4 separate regions of the Homo sapiens genome follow, and regions 1, 2 and 4 are each linked to region 3. Evidence: fine-mapped expression QTL. A gene starts in region 3. Each other region holds a variant in brackets. All regions are shown on one strand. Distances are between the middles of the regions. Region 1 overlaps GXYLT2 (glucoside xylosyltransferase 2). Region 2 has its middle 8.9 kb from the start of PPP4R2. Region 3 holds the start of GXYLT2 (glucoside xylosyltransferase 2). Region 4 overlaps GXYLT2 (glucoside xylosyltransferase 2).

Region 1 (5,151 bases), 53 kb before region 3:
TGATTTCTATTTATCATAATAAAGAACAGGAAAAAGAGGCTGGGTGCTGTAATCACGCCTGTAATCCCAGCACTTTGGGAGGCCAAGGCAGGAGGATCACTTGAGGCCAGGAGTTCCAGACCAGCCTGGGCAACATGGTGAAACCCCATCTCTACAAAAAAATAAAAAGTTAGCCAGGCGTGGTGGGGCGTGCCTGTGGTCCCAGCTACTCGGGAGGCTGAGGAGGGAGGATCACTTGAGCTCAGGAGATCAAGTCTAGAGTGAGGCATGTTCATGCCACTGCACTCCAGCCTGGGCAACAGAGGGAGACCCTGTCTCCAAAAAAAAAAAAAAGGAAAAAGAGAAATACAGATACCATTACTGCATTTTTTCAGTTAAAATAAAGATTGCTTTATGTGTACTCTATTGTATTTATTCACCCATTTTTATCTTTGTAAATTTTCACTTCCTTAAGCCAAATACATTTTGAGAAGTTATTCCAAGATAATACTTAATTTCTGTAATTATATGAGGTCCCTGTCCTCCTTTTTCCCCCTTTTCCTTTTTGAAGCATCCATCATTTCTGAAACACACATCTCTTTGGGTAAAATGTGTTGTCAAAGCTGCTTGACTGTGCTGATTTTCACCCACTGTGTCTGGCTGTGTTTTTAAATTTTTTATTGTGAGATCATTTTAAATTTACAGAAGAGGTGTAAAAAGTTCAGAGAGTTCCCATATATTCTTCACTCAGCTTTCTCTTGTGTTAACATCTTACATAACAAGAGAACAGTAATCAAATCTAAGAAATTAACCCTGGTATAAATACTACTAAATAAACTAAAGAACTTATTCAGATGTCACCAGTTTTTCCACAAATCTCCTCTTTCAGTTCCAAGATCCAAACACTGAATTTATTTGTCACATCTCCTTAGTCTCCTCCAATCTGTAACAATTTCTCAGCCTTTCCTTTTTTTTTTTTTTTATAACCTGGACAGCTTTGAAAACACTGGCCGGTTATTTAGAACAAAGTCCCTCAATTTGGGTGTCTGATGTTTTCGCATGTTTAGATTGAGGTTATGCTTTATTGGGAAGAACAGAGGTGAAACACGCCTGGGCATATACGATGTTGACCGGGCCAAGTGATATCAGTCTTGATTGCTTGGCAAAGGTGGAGTCTGACAATATTCTCCACAGTCAACTAAGGATTTCCCCTTTTTCTTTACTAAATATTTTGGAGGAGATACTTTAAAAATCATACAAATATCATGTTTCTGGTTAAACTTTCACTCCTTAATTTTAGCATTCACAGGTAGATCTTACCCGCAGTAATTATTACTATGGTGCTCTAACAATGATTTTCTATTTGCCTCCTTCTTTCTACATGTATTAACTGGAATTTTCTATAAGGAAGAGGTGTGATTTTTCTCCATTTATTTATTTATTTATTCAGTTATGTATTTATTTTTTTAATTCAGTTATTTATTTAGATTGGTGTGGACTTATGAAAAATTATTTTAAGTGTTATAATTAAATACTATCATTATTTATTTTGTTGCTCAAGTTGTTCCAGCTCAAGTCATTTGGAGCTCTTTCAGGTTGGCTCCTACCTCTTCCAATATGAACCCCCTCCTTTTAAAAATTATTTTTATTATTAAAAAATATTTTTTAGCACATCCTTACCTTCTGGCACCATAAGGTTAACTCCAGGGGCATCTTGCATTTTCCCTGCCTTCAGCCAGGAATGAACAGTTCTCCCAGGAGCCCTGGGTTCCTTTGGAGGATGGAATTCAGAAACCAATATCTAGGTGCTAGGTGTGTTCATTGCTACTCAGGTGTCACTGCTTCTAGCCTCCTAACAGTAGACAGAGCTAGGAAATACATGTATGTATACAAACCCATGTATACATACATATCCATAATTACTTCTTTTTCTTATTTTTATCTTTTCCTTTTTTTCACAGATGTTGAGTATCCATAATTACTTCTTTACTTATCTGTACCTATATATTTATTTAAAAAAACATGAGTCCACATTGACACTGATCTCAGGACTGTGCGGGCATGTGTGTATGTGTGTGTGTGTCTGCCTGTGAGAAATAATTTGTTAAAGGCAAAGAGAATTCTGAGCTTAGATTACTAGGGTGTTGGGCTAAGATTACTAGGTGTGATTTTAATAAGTGAGGCTGGAGGTAGGGGCGTAGAATGGCCAGGTTATTGTCTCCAGGCAACAGTATGGCAGAGGGTAATGTGCACAGCATCTGGGAAAGAGTGACACACACTAGAGTGGCTGGAATGGGAAATTCATGACTTGGAATAATGCTGAAAGTTAGTATGTAAACTCAGAATGCAAAGGGCCCTCAACATCAGGCCCAGAGGCCTGGACTTGACTCTGCAACAGGGACTCTAGGAGGATTCTGGGCCAGAATCCATCTGATGAGGATAGCATTCAAAAACCAAAAATGCAGGAGTAGTAACAGGAGAATAGAGACACATGTAGCAGGGAGATGAGTAAACAGGATAATATAATAACCCTTTTCTCTATTATCATTGCCACCTTTATTTTTTGTCTTAATTGTAAATACATGCAGACCCAGAACACATGGTCAGAAAGAGGCCTATACCTTCACGGCTCTGTACTTCTGGTGCATGCGAATGTCTTTGCAAATGTGAACAGATAGCTTGCATACATTACGTAAAGCTCTGATGCTCTTTGTCTTTTTTCTCTTTCTTACTGGTTTACTATTTTTAAAAATTGGGCCAGTGCGGTGGCTCATGCCTGTAATCCCAGCACTTTGGGAGACCGAGGTGGGAGTATTGCTTGAGGCCAGGAGTTCAGTTCCAGCCTGGGCAACATACAGATCCAATCTTTACAAAAAATTAAAAAATTAGTCAGGTGTGGTAGTTTGGGTGGGTAATTCCAGCTACTCAGGAGGCTGAGACAGGAGGGTCCTCTGAGCTCAGGAGGTGGAGGCTGCAATGAGCCATGA[T/C]TGCACCACTGCACTCTAGCCTGGATGACAGAGGGAGACCCTGTCTCAGAAACAAACAAACAAACAAAACACGAGTTGTCTGAATTCCACAATACACAAATTCATGCATGTGTGTTGTAAAAACATACAAACAATTCAGCAATCAACAGAGTAAGTTCAAGTTGCTCTTTACCTGTCCTTATCCTCACCACACCACCACTCCAAACCCCCATAACCAACCCCCGCTCTCTCTTCAGAATTAACCAACATTAACAGTGAACCTCATCCCAGTCTGTTCCATGGGGTCTTCATATGGCCAGGAAGTCAGATCTCAACTCAATCAATCCATCACTCTTTAAACTCTTTTTTCTGTAATTCTTATTACTGCCTGAAATTAACTAATTTACTTGCTTTTTGTCATTCTTTTCTGACTTGGATATAAGCTCCATGAGATTAGGATATTTGGATATCTTATTCACAGTCATACTTCTAGGGCCAGTCACATAACTGAGGCTCAATAAATATTACCGAATAAATGGTTGTATGTGTAAATGTTTATAAACACACACGAACACATACATTTTTGCATTTTCATTTTATTTACTTTTTTGAGGTAAGGTCTTGTTCTGTCACCCAGGCTGGAGTACAGTGACACAATCATGGCTCATTGCAGCCTCCACCTCCTGGGCTTAGGCAATCCTCCTGCCTCAGCCTCCCAGGTAGCTGGGATTAAAGGTGTGAGCCACAGCGCCTGGCCATTTCTTTGCATTTAAAAAATACTGGCTGAGTGCAGTGGCTCAAGTCTGTAATCCTAGCACTCTGGGAGGCCAAGGCAGGCGGAGTGGATTGCTTGAGCCTAGGAGTTCAAGAATAGCCTGGGCAACATGGCAAAACCTTATCTCTACAAAAAATACAAAAATTAGCCAGGTGTGGTGGTGCATGCCTGTAGTCTCAGCTACTCAGGAGGCTGAGGTGAGGGAATCACCTGAGCCTGGGGAGGTTGAGGCTGCAGTGAGCTCTGATAGCACCACTGCACTCCAGCCTGGGCGACAGACTGAGACCCATGTTTAAAAAAAAAAAAAAGGAAAGAAAAGACTACCTATAGAATCATACTATACATGCCATACTTTCTAATTGTCTACTTTGAGATACTTCCCTTTAATTTTATGTGTGCAGACAACAAAGAACATTCTGTTTGATGCTGCATATTCTCAAGTATCCTCTTTGATATTCTTGAAATAGTTTAAGATAGTTTAGAGAATAATGAATACTTGGAAAATAATGTTGCTATATAATGCTTCCTTTTCTGTTTTGTTGTTGTAGTTGTTGTTGTTTTTGAAAGTCTTGCTCTGTCACCCAGGCTGGAGTGCAGTGGTGTGATCTCGGCTCACTGCAACCTCTGCCTCCTGGGTTCAAATAATTCTCCTGCCTCAGCCTCCCAGGTAGCTGGGTGCCACCACGCCCGGCTAATTTTTGTATTTTTAGTAGAGACAGGGTTTCACCATGTTGGCCAGGCTGGTCATGATCTTTTCTGTTTTAAAATATATATATAATTGGGAGTTTGTAATAAAATAAATATGCATTCTTAAGTAGTGTTCCACACTGTTTTAATCTGAGATTTTAAGATTGCTCATTTTGTTAAATTATTACCTTAAAATGGGGTGGCACAGGAGAAAATTAAAGCCTATCAATTTTTATTTTTGTTTCTATTGTGCCCCCTTGTGGAATTACATATAACTTACATATTCATTTTTGTGACGTTCTAACAAAGAGCAGGGTGTACCAATGTCATGGCTGCATTCAGGCATGCACCAATCAATGAAGTAGCCTCTTCTGATCAGTTTAGTCTTTGCAAACAAGATTCTGATTGCTTCTGAGTTGAGCAAAGCAATGATGGCTTTGTTCAAGATGGTTCTTCTAAAATTCTGGCTCATTAAACTTGTGTTTGGTCTTTGATTTCATCATTTCAGCTGTGTGGCCAACTGTTAGAACTGCATGCAGGACGTTTTCCACAGGCCTTGCGTAACTGAAAAGTATCTGGTTTCTCCGGCATGTTCTGAGATAATGGCTCTCTAAGATGTTCCATCTGCTTCCATGCTTGCTTTTGGCTTGCTTCCTCCTCTTATCAGGTGTTGCAATCCCAGCCAGCAAGCACACAGTATCTTTCCTTGTTGGCTGTAGACATTCCGTTAGCCATGGCAACTGT
Region 2 (5,151 bases), 100 kb before region 3:
AATTGAATATAATAAAATCAAATAGTGTATTAAGAGAAAAAGGTCTAAAATCAGATATCTAGTTTAATTCCTGGCTTATTACTTCCTAGCTGTTTGAATTCAGGTAAATGATTAATATCAAAATGCCTCAGTTTCCTTATGTATAAATTGAAGTTAATAGTGGTGACTTACTCATTGGTTTGCTGAGAGAATTAAGCCAGTGATCTGACTCAATCAATATTAGGTATTGTTCATACTTACATAGGTTAAGAATTACAAAAATAATTTATGGTTTTTCTTTCTCTTTTGAAATGATTTCAAACTCACATAAAAGTTGCAAGTACAGGCCAGGCGTGGTGACTCAAGCCTGTAATCCCAGCACTTCGGGAGGCTGAGGCGGGCAGATCACTTGAGTTCAGGAATTCAAGACCAACCTAGCCAACATGGTGAAACCCCGTCTCTACTAAAAATACAAAAAATTCACCAGGCATAGTGGCACATGCCTGTAGTCCCAGCTACTCGGGAGGCTGAGGCAGGAGAATTGCTTGAACCCAGGTGCTGGAGGTTGCAGTGAGCCAAGATCTTGCCACTGCACTCCAGGCTGGGTGATGGAGCAAGACTCCATCTCAAAACCCAACCAACAAACAAACAAGTTGCAAGTACACTACGAACATTTCTTTTCCTGAACTATTTGAGAGTAAGTTGCTGAAGAGATACTCCCAACCCCCCGAAAACTTTAGTATATAATTGCTAAACATAATGGTGCAACAATTATTATTATACAACAATTGAGGCCGGGCGCAGTGGCTCACACCTGTAATCCCAGCACTTTGGGAGGTCGAGGCAGGCGGATCACGAGGTCAGGAGATCGAGACCATCCTGGCTAACACGGTGAAACCCTGTCTTTACTAAAAATACAAAAAATTAGCCGGGCGTGGTGGCGGGTGCCTGTGGTCCCAGCTACTCGGGAGGCTGAGGCAGGAGAATGGCGTGAACCCAGGAGGCGGAGCTTGCAGTGAGCCGAGATCGCACCACTGCACTCCAGCCTGGACGACAGAGTGAGACTCCATCTCAAAAAAAAAAAAAAAGCAATATATGTAGTTTATTCTATTTCAATTGTATCTTAAAAGAGTTGTACAAAAATACTGACTCCCTAAACACAAGTCAGAAATTAAAAAAAAAAAAACTAGAATACAATGCGTTTAAAATACATACCTTAAAAGGGGAAATAGGGATAATAAAAGCATTGGGGGATTTTTGGAGTTAAAAATAAATCACCCAACTATGTTATCATTTGTAATAAAATTAAAGTAATAGCCATGCTACAAACTGGAGGAGAAATGTTATAAACCTTGAATATGTAACATCATAATAGCTAGTAAAATCCAATGATGAGAGAAAAATAAGAGAATATATAAGTATGCTAAATTCTAAATACTTTGTGCAGAGTTGATTCAAACTTTCCAAAATAGAAACAGAGATTGGCCGGGCACAGTGGTTCATGCCTGTAATCCCAGCACTTTGGAAGGCTGAGGCGGATGGATCACTTGAGGTCAGGAGTTCGAGACCAGCCTGGCCAACATGGTAAAACCCTGTCTCTTCTAAAAATACAAAAACTAGCCAGGCTTAGTGGCAAGCACATGTAATCCCAGCTACTCGGGAGGCTGAGGCAGGAGAATCACTTGAACCCAGGAGACGGAGGTTGCAGTGAGCTGAGATCGTGCCATTGCACTCCAGCCTGGGCAGCACAGCCAAAGCTCCATCTCAAAAAAATAAATAAATAAAAATAAAAATAGAAACAGAGATGAAGGGCCAGGTGCAGTAGCTCATGCCTGTAGTCCCAGCACTTTGGGAGGCCGAGGTGGGCAGATCACCTGAGGTCAGGAGTTCAAGACCAGCCTGGCCAACATGGTGAAACCCCATCTCTACTAAAAATACAAAAATTAGCTGGGCATAGTGGCTCACGCCTGCAGTCCCAGCTACTTGGGAAGCTGAGGCAGGAGACTCGCTTGAACCTGGGAGGTGGAGGTTGCAGTGAGCCAAGATCACACCACTGCACTCCAGCCTGGGCAACAGAG[G/T]GAGACTTGGTCTCAAAAACAAAACAACAACAACAACAACAACAACAAACAGAAACAGACGTGAAGAAGGAGTAGAGCGGGGAGGAGAATAATTATTCTTACGGTTAGTAAACTTAGACACAATATAGGTATTATTATTTAAGTTTTTTTTTTTTTTGAGACTGAATTTCACTCTGTTGTCCAGGCTGGAGTACAGTGGCGGGATCTCGGCTCACTGCAACATCTGCCTCCCGGGTTCAAGCAATTCTCCTGCCTCAGCCTCCCAAGTAGCAGGGATTACAGGCACGTGCCACCACGCTCAGCTACTTTTTGTGTTTTTAGTAGAGATGGGGGTTTCACCATGTTGGCCAGGCTGGTCTCAAACTCCTGACCTCAGGTGATCCTCCTGCCTTGGCATCCCAAAGTGCTGGGATTACAGGTGTAAGCCATCTGCACCCGGCCAAAATTCCATTTTTTATTCACATGAACAAAAATTACCAATTGCAAATGACAAGACAAAGATTTGAGTTCAAGTGGTCTATTTGGGGGCCAAATCCAAGAAAACACTGGCAGGAGTGGGGAAGTGTGATGGGGATGGCAAGAAGGCCAATAAAGAATATATATTATTAAAGAAGTTACTACTGTGGGCAACTTGAGCTTCTTCACACTGGGAAATTCTGGGATGCAATTCTGGAACAGACCAGAGTTACCCTTCCAGAGAAGATGAGGAGCTGAGGTATTTATCTACCAACTCCTGTCAGTCAGTGATTGTTACTACTCCCAGAGGTGTTAATTTCCCAATACTTTGAGCCTGCCTGTAGGCAAGTGGAGCAGGCTGCAGTGGCAGAAGGGAGCCTTCGGGCAGAGTCACAGGTTGGGAATCAGAATTTTGAGCTGGCATGCATGGAAATAATGTATGTTAAGGGAATAAGACAGGGCATGCTATGCTGGTCATCTATTCTGTGCCAGAAATTGTGGGTTCTAAATAGGCAGATGGCAGCCTTAGGAAGCTTAAATTCTGACACACCATACACCAACTATTTTCTTAATTAGTTATTGACTTTATTTGAATTTCCTCTCATTTGAGCACGTATTGGTTTTATGTTTTAAAACCTCCATACACATACAAACAATAAATATCAGAGAAGCTGTTATAAACGGTGATCAAGTTTTAAACATTTAATTTTTTTTTAAACGCTACTATCGGCCGGGCGCGGTGGCTCAAGCCTGTAATCCCAGCACTTTGGGAGGCCGAGGCAGGCGGATCACGAGGTCAGGAGATCGAGACCATCCTGGCTAACACGGTGAAACCCCATCTCTACTAAAAATACAGAAAACTTAGCCTGGCGCGGTGGCAGGCGCCTGTAGTCCCAGCTATTCGGGAGGCTGAGGCAGGAGAATGGCGTGAACCCAGGAGGCGGAGCTTGCAGTGAGCCGAGATCACACCACTGCACTCCAGCTTGGGCGACAGACTGAGACTCCGTCTCAAAAAAAAAAAACAACAAAAAACAAAAAACAAACAAACAAACAAAAAGCTAGTATCAGTCCTTTTACTTTTCTTTCAACTGTGTGCTTGCAATCTTTTCTTTTCTTTTTTTTTTTTTTTTTTGAGATGGAGTTTCGCTCTGTCACCCAGGCTGGTGTGCAGTGGCGTGATCTCGGCTCACTGCAACCTCCGCCTCCTGGGTTAAAGCAACTCTCCTGCCTCAGCCTCCCGAGTAGCTGAGATTACAGGTGCCCGCCATGGTTTCTGGCTATTTTTTTTTTTTTTTTGTAATTTTAGTAGAGACTGGCATTCTGCCATGCTGGCCAGGCTGTTCTTAAACTCCTGACTTCAGGTGATTCACCCACTTTGGCCTCCCAGAATGCTGGGATGGATACAGGCATGAGCCACTGTGCCTTGCCGCTTGCAATCTTTTCTAATAACAATAATTTAGAAGAATTCAATTTCCTAATATGATATTTAGACTTGCATTGTCACTTGACCCAGAATAGCAATCCTGAAAAAAGAAATGCTATTGTTTTGATAAACTCTAAGTGCTCCATAATGAGACAGGCATAGGTGTTCCCAGGTGTCTCTTTATAGTTACAGCCTATATGCATATACATGACATAGAGCCTATATAAGTATAGTGGATACATCAACATTTATGATTTTGACTGTCACCTCTAGGAGTCTATGGGGACTGTGGAACTGAGGAATTGTTGAAGTGCTCTTGTCCAACAGATCAAATTTATGATAAGGAACCACCCCCTCCCAAATCATTCATTCATTTTAGATTATTGAATTGTTTCTGGTACGAGGGGTTTATTTGGTTAATGATAGTTTTCAATGAGGGGAAAAAGATATATTATAGTTGTCTTAAGTTAAACACCAGGAGAACAATTTTCTTGATATTTTGACCCAGGTTGGCAATACCATTTTTCATCTGAACATGGAGACAAGGTATTTTTCCAAAGATGGAATGATTCTATTAAAATGACATGAAAATTTTATGGCTGGAATCCTAGAAGGATGTGTGGTTTTCAATAAAATATTAATGAAAAAAGCATTGTTAAAATGATACATTTCCCTTGGCATCTTTTGAGCCTTTGAATATAGAGCTATTTCCAGATTTTTCACTTACACAAGACCTTTTTTTTTCTCTGTACTTGTTTGAGTTGTGTTTGCTGTCACTTACAATTTAAAGAGTTTTAATGACTAAAGAAATTGGTACCAGGAGTGGGGTGGTTTCCAGGCAGCCAAAATCCCACAAATATCTATTATAGAGCTATAAAAAACAGATTATGGAAATAGAGAGCATTTACACAAAAAGGAACTTTAACCTCATCTGACCTAACCATGTCATTTTATGAATAAGTAAATAAACTGACTCAATCAATACATTCTCTCTCTTTCTTTTTTTTTTTAGGGACACGGTCTTGTTCTCTCACCCAGGCTGGAGTATAGTGGTACAATTACAGCTCATTACAGCCTTGACCTCCTGGGTTCAAGTGATCCTCCTGACTCAGCCTCCCAAGTACCTAGGACTACAAGCATGCGCCATCACTCCCAGCAAATTGAAGTGTGTTTTTTTTTTGATATGGGGTCTTGCCATGTTGCCCAGGCTGGTCT
Region 3 (5,151 bases):
CTGTGAACCTTGGACAAACTGCTAACCCTTGTGCAATACTTTCCTCATCTGAAAAGTGGGGATACCATTGGTGCTTACTTTGCAGAGCAGGTTCTCAAACTTTGTTGTGCATGAGAAACAATGGGAGGGACGTGTTAAAACACGGTTGCTGACCCCCCAAAGCTTCTGATTCTGTAGGGTTGGGGTGGGGCCCAGGAATCTGCATTTCTAACAAGTTCCCAGATGATGCCTGTGCCACTGGTCTGAAGTCCACACTTTGAGAACCACTGTCAAAGGGTTATGGTTGGGCCCGGCGCGGTGGCTCACGCCTGTAATCCTAGCACTTTGGGAAAGGCTGAGGCAGATGGATCACTGGGCTCAGGAGTTCCTGGCCAATATGGTGAAACCCCGTCTCTCTACTAAAAATACAAAAATCAGCTGGGCATGGTGGCACACGCCTGTTTGCCAGCTACCTGGCAGGCTGAGGCACAAGAATCACTTGAATCTGGGAGGCCTGAACCCGGGAGGCAGCGGTTGCAGTGAGCAGAGATCGCAGCACGGCACTCCAGCCTGGGCGACAGAGGAAGACTTTGTCACAAAAAAAAAAAAAAAACAAAAAAAAAACCAAAAGAAAAACAGCGGTGGGGGGGAAGGTTATGGTGTGGATTATGTAGTTGTATATGTTAAGTGTTAACTGTGACTATTTGTATGTACTGCGGTTAGCACTGTCCCTGGCAATAGGTTAGCGATGTTAAGGATGACAGTTATTATTATCTTACCAGTTGTCCCATCAAACTTAGCAATCATATTAAACTTGCAGTTAAACCCTAATTAATCTCTTACAAGAAACTCCAGTATAGAAGAGGGGAAATCCTATTAATTTCCTAACAAAGATATCCTTAAAGACTGTATACATCCAGAAAGGGCTGTAAAGTGTTATAAGTACTTTAAAGCGACAGATTGTTGGGGTTTTTTCCCCCTAAAACTTGTCAGTACCCATTTGTACTGAGACAGAAGGGAAACAAAGGCTGACACAGCTACTTCTTGAGGTTTCGTGTCTTTTAGTTACAGTAAAGGCACCAAAGAGATTTAGTCATTATGGTCAAAAATAATTTTTCAACTCCTTTCAGGTTGAAATTAAGGAGCCCAGCAAACAAGGACGTTGCAATGGCAGTTAGAAACAACAGTTTTGAAAGGGCAGATGAAACAGACTCGCTACAAGACAAGGGGATTGTTGAAAAGCCCTCCACAACAAAGGAAATGAACTCAAATCCCTAACCTGCGGGGCGTTCCAGCAACCCTGAGGCCAAAAATAAAGCTCTCTGATGAAAAGCCTCCGCGTGTTAGGCTTTGTGTAGGGAAAGAGAGTATCAAACAGAAGGTCGAAGGTTAAGTTGTTTTTCTTGTAGGAGGACCCTTTGACCACACTCGAGCCTGAAACAGAATGAGGATCTGGAAACCCCCACTCTGTCTTTTCTGTGCCACGCATCAGTCCTTTCAAGGAGAAAACTTCTTTTTAATAAACTTAGGTCAAGTGTCCCTTCTGTTCTAAGCATGGGGGTACTCGAGGTTAAATGAGAGGCTGCCAGTCCTTGGTAAACATCTAACTTTTCCAACTCAACCATATCTAAGGTTTCGGTAAAATTCTCCAGTGAAACATGAGAATTAGATAAAACATTCTTGCACCGTGATGGCTTTTGACAAATTAAACAAAGGGTGCATGTTTGCAAGAGTGCAAAAATACGCCTTGCCTTGACAGTTAAAAAATGTAATGTACGAAACCACTTTCCTTGACACTTCAAAAAATGTACGTGATTATCAACACCGAGCTGTTAGGGGGACTCCACCAAGGTGGGTCTTCTTTTCTATCGGGTTAAGAAACAGAAGTGGGCAGCCCGTGGGTGAAACTTGGAAATCTGTCTCTCCAGCGCAAAGCCTCCCTTGGACTTGGCACGGGTGTAGGGAGCGAGACACGGGTCCGCAGATGGGATTCTGGGGTTGCCACGACTCACCTCGCCAACTTCTCCAGTCTCGCAGCGCCCCGGCGGCCCGCTCGGGGGCGCGGACGCGGGGGCCGGCGCCTCCGAACTCCCGGGCTGGCCCCGGGGAGGGCGCCCGGCCCCGGCCAGCGCGCGGGGACAGGCGCGGGGTGGCGCTGCGGGGCGGACGCGGGGCGCGCGGGCAGCGCTGGGGGCTCAGCGCGGCCAGCGCGCAGGGACAGCAGCGCCAGCAGCAGCGCGGCCAGCGCGAGCAAGAGCAGCGCCGCCGCCTTGCTGCGGAGCTTCATGGTGCGGCGCGGCGGCGGCGGCGGCCCCCAGGCGGCTCGGCCCCTCTGCGCATCGCGGCGGCGGCAGGATGAGTGCAGCAGCGCGCGGCGGTCGCCTCCTCCGCCCGCCCGCCGGGGACTGGGGTCGTGGCGGCCGGCGGGCGGCCGGCGGCGGCGGCGACGGCGAAGGAGGAGGAGAGAGAGGAGAGGAGGGGGAGGCGGTGAGAGCTGGGTTACAGGAGGAGCAGCCTGCGCCTACCGTACTGTGTGGAGTAGCCGCCCCTCCGCCCGCCCGCAGCCAGGCTCTCGGGCTTCTGGTAGCTCAGACTCAAAACCACTTCATTCATTCATTCGTTCGTTCGTTCGTTTACTTCCCCATTCACTCACACACCCATGCCATCCACTGTTCCCGCTGATTCTCTCATACCATGATTCACTTATTTGTTGATGTATTCCATGTGCTTCCTCCTTATTTATTTTATCCATCTATCCACACATTTGTGCACTTATCCACACATCCTTTCAGGCAGGAACATCTCTGTCCTGTTTGCCCAGTGCAGGGATCTGCGGGTGGTGGTGCCCAATAAATATCTGTTGAATAAACCCCTATTGCCGCCTCTGTCTTGCCACCTCCCTTTTTCCTGGAGGAGGACATATTCAACAAGGACACATGCAAAATAAGGCAAAGCGAGTAAAAGTAACACGTGATTAGTAGTTGGGGTTTCAGACTCAAAACACCAAAGTAGAACTTGGGACAGCTAGACTGGACCGAACCGATCCATGTAGTCTGAAGAAATTAGAGAATGAATTTCAAAGTTTGGATTTGAAATCTGACACTGTGCTTAACTGGCTTGGTGATCCTGAGGAAGCTGCACAACTTTCTTAAGCCTTAACTTCCTTACGTGCAAAATGGGAATGACAATACTGCTCACTACAGAGGCGTTTTGTGAGCATTAAATTAAATAATGCCTTCAAAGAAACTAGCACAGTGCCTGGCTCACAGTCGGTGCCCAATAAAAGTTCTGTAATGATTAGTTCAATAAAACATAGCTTATAATATACACATAAACACACATTTTATTTTCTTTCTGGCACAGATTTGAGATAGAGTAATAATTTCACAACACAATGTAAGAATGGCTTCTTTGGAGACTTTAACAGCTGCAATCGCCAGATGAAGGTCGTAATTTCCAGACGATTCTTCCAGGGGATCCCCAGTTACAAATCTGAAACATTAGGACACATCCTCTTATGACTCACGGTGAACTGACAGCCAGGACTCCATTAACTCTCTTTTCAGCACACCACAGAACAAAGAACACTAGTTAAGTTATAACAACGTCCCTGAGTTTTTCAGTTTTTTTTTTTTTTTTTTTTTTGGATCACTCTGTAGCCCAGGCAGGAGTGCAATGGTGCAATCTTAACTCACCGCAGCCTCCGCCTCCCGGGTTCAAGCCATTCTCCTGCCTCAGCCTCCCAAGTAGCTGGGATTACAGGCTGCGCCACCACACCCGGCTGATTTTTGTATATTTAGTAGAGACGGGGTTTCACCACGTTGGCCAGGCTGGTCTTGAACACCTGACCTCAAGTGATCCGCCCGTCTCGTTCTTCCAAAGTGCTGGGATTACAGGCATGAGCCACCGCGCCCAGCCCGTCCCTGAGTTTCTACAAGATTCCATGTTGCTTTATAAATAATCTAAAATTTAGTTATATTCTGAATTATTCTCATATTAGCATTTTATTTTAATTCCTTGAGAACCCATTGTATTAAAAGTTCTAGAGATGAGAATATTTAGTAATTTGGAAGCTCTTGCCAAGCAGACATCTAGGAAATGGCAGGGTGCAAGTTCAGTGTGGGGGACATGTTGTAGGTGAGTAAGCGCAAAGAATCCATTAGTTCTCAAAGATGAGGGAGAAGGTTCCATCCTACCAGGAAGCATCTGGAATTGTGGGAAGGCTGACAGGTTCTACTAGCATATGCAAAACCTCCTGCAATGCTCAGGACATACCAACAACGAAAACTATCCTGGCCCAATGTGGGACCCTGTTGAGAAACACTAGGCCAGGCTAAGGCATGATGTTTAGATCTTTCAGGTTTAGAAATGGCCACCACTCTGTTGACATGTGGCCCAGAGAAGCAGGCATTCCCAACTCTGTCTTGCCCCCTCCCTTCTACCTCTAGGAGGACAGATGCAACAAGGATAAACAAAGGCAGAGTGAGTCAAAGTAACACTTGATTAGTAGCCAGGGTTTTAGCCTCAAACACCAAAGAATCATGGACCAAAGAGAGGACTCAGTTTTCTTGAACCTCACTGAAGCCAAAAAAAAAAGCCTAATCTGCCTCCTTCCACTGAGTCCAAACTCAACTTTTGGATTTGTTTGGATTGCTCTGATTGGTGGAAAACTACATCCTCTAATTTTTTTTTCTTTGGATGTGGTCAAATCTCATTTTAGTTGCAAAAGACTTCATTTACAGCACATTCAATAATGAACCAACAGGAGAGTTGCTGACTTTGGAACATATGAATATATAAAAATCCCTCGCAATTCAGGTAGTCAAGATAATAAGCACATACAAGGAAAGCAAACCTCATTTCTCTGAAAACGTTTACATTTTAAAAGATGACTAGGCATACTTGGACGTTCAAAGCAGTAGGATGTCCCTTGCAGGGAAAGAAGGAGGAAAACCCTTTTCCGTGTTGTTAGGCAAATGTATATCAAATATATCCCAATTCCACTTGATAAAGTCAGTTGGATGACCTCCTTGAACCAGGCTAGGGCAGAACACTTAAGAGGGCCTTGGGTGGGGATGTGAATCCAGGAGAAGAGGAACACCAGATCCCATGCAGTGCCAAACACATCTGTTCCACCCTCTAACACAGATGAGGCACGTCGCCCATGTCCCT
Region 4 (5,144 bases), 87 kb before region 3:
GGTAAACTTGGCTCTCATAAAAAAGAAAGGCATTGTATTTCAAGTCTTTACAGTAGATGTTTTTGTGGGACTTATCAAAGGAGAGAAGGAACCTCTTTGAGTTGGTGAGCCATCAACAAATCTGAGTGCCATTTGTGTGTTTCACTGGCCATTCTGAACAAGTAGAAAGGAAACTAGGATGGAAGTTAGGAAATTATGTTCCATCCTGGCTCTTTCACTAAAACCCAATTTATGGGTATATAAGATGCAATTTCCCCTATGTGAAAGACAATTCAAAAATTGCTCCATATCATACGTGTCCATACCACAAATGGAAAGCCTAGTACTAAAGTTACAAAATAATGATGTCACCTCTAGTGGTGAAATAAGGAAACAAAATATAACAGCAAAAATAAGAGTTTCCCGTCATAATGGTAGTTTCCTTAACAAAAATAACCACAGGGCAACTGATCAGAAGGAAAGTATTACTCTAAAATTTTAGATTTAAATTTGTTACTACTATAATAATGCTGCATACCAAAACTGATTGACATCTAAACATTTCTGTGTAGTGCTGAGATTTTCATATCTATTTTTTTTTCAGGGTAAGACTGACTTTTTTTTGCTAATATTGCGCCCATGATATCTTATTGGATTCTAATATATATAAGGATATCATATTTACATCAACAAGATAATATTTTTCTTTTTATACTTCCAGATCATTGTCTCTATATAACAAAAAGTATTTAATATTTTAATTTTCAAAAATGTCTCTGTAAATAAGATACATCTTACACAGACTGTATGTCTTACAGAATAGCAATTATATTCAATATGTTTATTTCTTTGTGTTACAATTTCCTTGTTTGCCTTATAGAGATGATTCAGGACCCTACCAAATCCACTAGGCTGTTGCAAATATCAAGATCATCTATGCAATAGTCATTTGAGAAAAATAAAGCATTATGCAAAATATTGCTATGCTGATACCAACTATATGAGCAACTAGGGATTAAGCCAGATCCCCGTGGGGAACAGAATATTCAACTTCCTCCTTGCAGTGAGGTGATAAAACCTGTATGGACCAGCTAGGTAACCCTAGGGGGAAAGAAATTGTTTAAAGAGACCTTTCTAAGGCTGGTAGGAAGTTGAATTTTCTTACCAATAGAAGCAGCTGAACTATTTGTTTTTTACACATTAAATTTGAAGTTGGTCTCTGATTTCCACCCATTGCCCAAGAGTTTAAGAAAGAGAGATGACCACAGCTACTGATGATTAACAGATCAAATGTTTTTGTCTGTGGTAAACACAAACATTCCTGAATTTCCTCTCAGAAGCTATTGTTGCATAGAAATGTATTATGATTTAGTCCTCCACAAATCAAAGTAATTTTTTTCTTTAGAAATACTCCCAGATTGGCTGAGTGCAGTGGCTCACACTTGTAATCCCAGCACTTTGGGAGGCTGAGGCAGGCAGATCACTTGAGGTCTGGAGATCAAGACCAGCCTGGCCAACATGGTAAAACCGTGTCTCTACTAAAAATACAAAAATTAGCCGGGTGTGGTGGCACACACTTGTAATCCCAGCTACTGGGGAGGCTGAGGCATGAGAATCACTTGAACCCAGGAGGTGGAAGCTGCAGTGAGCCGAGATCCTGCCACTGCATTCTAGCCTGGGCTACAGAGTGAGATTCCGTCTCAAAAAAAAAAAAAAAAAAAAAAAGAAAGAAAGAAAAAGAAGAAATACCCCCAGATACATGCTTCATCCTTTAACACTACCCAAGTATCTGAATGATTCTCTCAGATGTATTTTAAATAAAATTCTGTACACATAATCATCTCATCTAATATTTTAGTCTCCCACATAAAAATCTCAGCAAAAAGGCCAGCTTTTACTGAGATTACCTGTTTTAGATGTGTGTTAGAGTGGAAAATGCAAAAGTAGAGAAAAAAGGTTGTAAGGAACTGCTTTAAAATGGAAACAATCTTTTCCACTGGTCAATAGGATTATGGCTAATCTAATCTTGATGTTGAGCCCTTGACCCATATGCTCTACAAGTGTGTCTCTCTGTTTCAAAAGTGTGTATTACTTTTATAACACGGGTGTGGGGGAGTCAGTTGCATAGAAAGAGTCTCAGGAATGCTAGATCAATATAACACCTCAGGTGCCACTGAAATGGTCTCAGACGTT[T/A]AGGAATTAGAAGGCTCACAAAAGCTATTTTCACAGCTAGCTCAACCTGCTTAAACAATGTTAAATGAGTAATAGTCTTTTTTTTTTTTCCTTAGAGATAAATAGCATTTTAGAAAAAAAAATAAGGAAAAGCATATTCCCTTTTGGGGGCAACTGATTTGGCAAAATTTAACGAGGTTTTTAAAACTCAACAGTCATGGAGCACCATTAAATATTCACACAAAAAGACCCAGGCAGCTTAGAGATTAGTATTTCCTTGGTCACAAGACACCTAATTGACTTGCAACAAGACAAAATATTCAGTGCATCTGGTTGGGGCCAACATGGATGATGACGTGTTTCTCATAAGCCCTTTTCATTGTTTTCTCAATTTGCTTCAGAAAAACTTGCGGGATTCGTCCACATAAAGTGTGCACAGTCTCCAAAAACTTCAGCTGAAGGGGGTAATACATGGATTGAAAGAGATTGTCTTGAAAGGGAAACTGAAAGATGACAAAAAAAAAGTTTATTTAGTAACGGAAATGCCATTTTAAATGCAGATCATTTTTACTAAGAAATGACACAGGAATTACGATAAGCCCACAGGCACAGGTTTGGACAAGTGAAAAGACCTTTGAGGATCTAACTTAAAATCCTGTCTCAGCTGTGCAACCCCAGGTAATCATTTAAACTCTCCGAACCTCAGTTTCTTTACCTCTTTAAAAAGAAAAAGGCTAGGCATGGTGGCTTACACCTGTAACCCCAGCACTTTGAGAGGCCGAGGTGGGAGGACCACTTGAGCCCAGGAGTTTGAGACCAGCCTGAGCAACATGGCAAGACCCCATCTCATTAAAAAAGAATAGTAATAAAATTAAAAAAAAATTTGGGTCCTTAAGGGTCTTACAATCTAAAAATGATGCATGTCTCTAAGGACAGGAAAGTCCATATATCATAGCATGTTTACGCTGAGTAGAAGGAAGGCTCAAGATACTCACTTGAAATCTACTACAACAAAACAATGAATTCTTCATCTTTTTTGACCTTAATGAAGAAACTTTAGGGTATGTCTATGGTAATCTCGTGAAGTTCAGGGTTTAACAATTACTAGTAAAATTTATTGGCAATAAACCAGATTTTAATAATTCAGGTACCAAATATTAGTGGTTGTTTATTTCCCTCTTAATATTGGGCTTTTGAGATCATCACTGCCATTTTTTAAAATTCTTTTGTTTTCTTCATGGAATACGTCTATGAGCAGTATAACCCAAAATAAATCTTTCAGACCACTTAGTTACGCACATGTATCAAAGTTTTATTACAATCTTGTTGAAAGGGAAAAGTCTGGTAGTAGATCAAGTCAAAGATCCACTCTTGGTCAGGACATTTTATATGGAAAGACTAGTGAGAAATGAAAGAAGAATGGTTAAAGATCAGTACACTCTTGCCTAACAGGAGAGGTGGGTGTCTGGTTTCCTAGAACAAATGTTAATCCTTTAAAATTAATCAGAAATACTGCTTACACAGGTTTATCAGAGATGCCAGTTTCTTCTCGGAAGGAGATTATGCATTATGTAATGCAAGAAGGTTCTCTCCCAGACCAGGTTGGTTTGGGATACTTTTTCTTTAATCATGAAATTTAAATCATTGATAAACCCCTTGAAGCCAGTCCTGAATCTGTCCTTTTCACCACTGTAGCTCCAGTAATGGGAACAGGATAGGTCAAAACCTTGGAATCACCCTCAATTCCTCTCTTTCCCCCCACAACCCTCATCCAATTCATCAGCAAGTCCTGTAAACTCTATCTCAACAGCATATCCCAAATATGGCGACTTCTTCCCATTTCCTGCCACCACGCAAGCCCATGCTGGCCCCATTGCTCACCCAGGTGGCTGCGATTAGTCTCACAAATAAATAGCCTTTGTGTTTTCACTCTTGCATCCCTTCCACCACATTACCAAGGTGATATTTCTAAATCATAAATCAGAGCCTATCACTTTCCCGAAGGGGCTTTCCACTGCCATTAGAATGAGATTCCAACTCCTCCCTTGTTCTAAAGGTTCAAGGTGACCTGGAAACTCTCCCCTCTCAGTTCCTCCTCTCTCCTCTTATCTGGCCATTCCTGTCTTTCCAGCACACCAAATTCATTCCTGCCTCCGGGACTTTCCCCTGGTCATTCCTTCTGTTTCACGGGATTTTCCCCAGATTTCCCCTGGGCTGCCTCCATCTGATAAGTCTAGGACTTACAAGCAGCCTCCCTGGTGCCCCTCCCCCAGCTGGTAGAACACTCCTCTCCAGCCCAGGACTTTGGACCCATCAGCCCACTCTTTTTACACCTTTTGAACTCCTTTCACCTTTCACTATCTCAGAGGATTTTTTTTTCTTTTGAGATAGGGTCTTGCTGTGTCACCCAGGCTGGAGTACAGAGGGGCAATCACGGCTCACTGCAGCCTTGAACTCCTGGGCTCAAGTGATCCTCCATCTCAGCCTCACAATTAGCTGGGACCACAGGCACTTGCCATGACGCCCAGTTGTTACTATTTTTTTTCCTAAAGAGGCAAAGTCTTGCTCTGGCTGGAGTACAGTGGGGCCATCCTAGCTCACTGTAGCCTTGGCCTCCTAAGCTCAAGAGATCTTCCCACCCCAGCCCCAACCCCTCCCCACCCAGTAGCTGGGACTACCTGCATGTGCCACCAGGCTAATTTTTTTTTTTTTTTTTTAATTTTTGTAGAGACGCATCTCACTATGTCGCCCAGGCTGAATTTTTCTTTCTTTTTCTCAATCAGTATTGTCTGGCTTCCCCCACCAGAATATATGCTTCTTTTTTTTTTTTTTTTTTTCCGAGACAGAGTCTTGCTCTGTCACCCAGGCTGGACTGCAGTGGTGCGATCTTGGCTCACTGCAACTTCCACTTCCTGGGTTCAAGAAATTCTCCTGCCTCAGCCTCCTGAGTAGCTGGGATTACAGGTGCCTGCCACCACGCCCGGCTGATTTCT

What was found. PIP is the estimated chance that this variant, and not a neighbour inherited with it, causes the effect. A credible set is the group of variants that fine-mapping cannot tell apart.
Region 1: its variant is the best candidate, but not a certain one, in a credible set for the expression of GXYLT2 in coronary artery (GTEx, PIP 0.68).
Region 2: its variant is the best candidate, but not a certain one, in a credible set for the expression of GXYLT2 in unexposed skin (GTEx, PIP 0.69).
Region 4: its variant is the best candidate, but not a certain one, in a credible set for the expression of GXYLT2 in esophagus muscle (GTEx, PIP 0.71).

Annotation. Positions count from the first base shown.
Region 1 is chr3:72,938,562-72,943,712 of GRCh38, reverse strand. The region is part of intron 3 of GXYLT2 (glucoside xylosyltransferase 2); the gene reads right to left. Among named protein-coding and RNA genes, the nearest start is that of GXYLT2, 53 kb to the right of the region's middle. The variant T/C (reference allele first, on the strand shown) is at 2,967.
Region 2 is chr3:72,985,384-72,990,534 of GRCh38, reverse strand. No RefSeq gene overlaps it. Among named protein-coding and RNA genes, the nearest start is that of PPP4R2, 8.9 kb to the left of the region's middle. The variant G/T (reference allele first, on the strand shown) is at 2,058.
Region 3 is chr3:72,885,349-72,890,499 of GRCh38, reverse strand. It overlaps GXYLT2 (glucoside xylosyltransferase 2), which reads right to left and starts at 2,454. Exons shown (of 7, transcript NM_001080393.2): 1 at 1,992-2,454. The coding sequence starts at 2,266. RefSeq lists silencers at 1,955-2,084, 2,185-2,414.
Region 4 is chr3:72,972,487-72,977,630 of GRCh38, reverse strand. GXYLT2 (glucoside xylosyltransferase 2) reads right to left here. Exons shown (of 7, transcript NM_001080393.2): 7 at 716-2,654. The coding sequence ends at 2,472. Among named protein-coding and RNA genes, the nearest start is that of PPP4R2, 22 kb to the left of the region's middle. RefSeq lists an enhancer at 160-229. The variant T/A (reference allele first, on the strand shown) is at 2,173.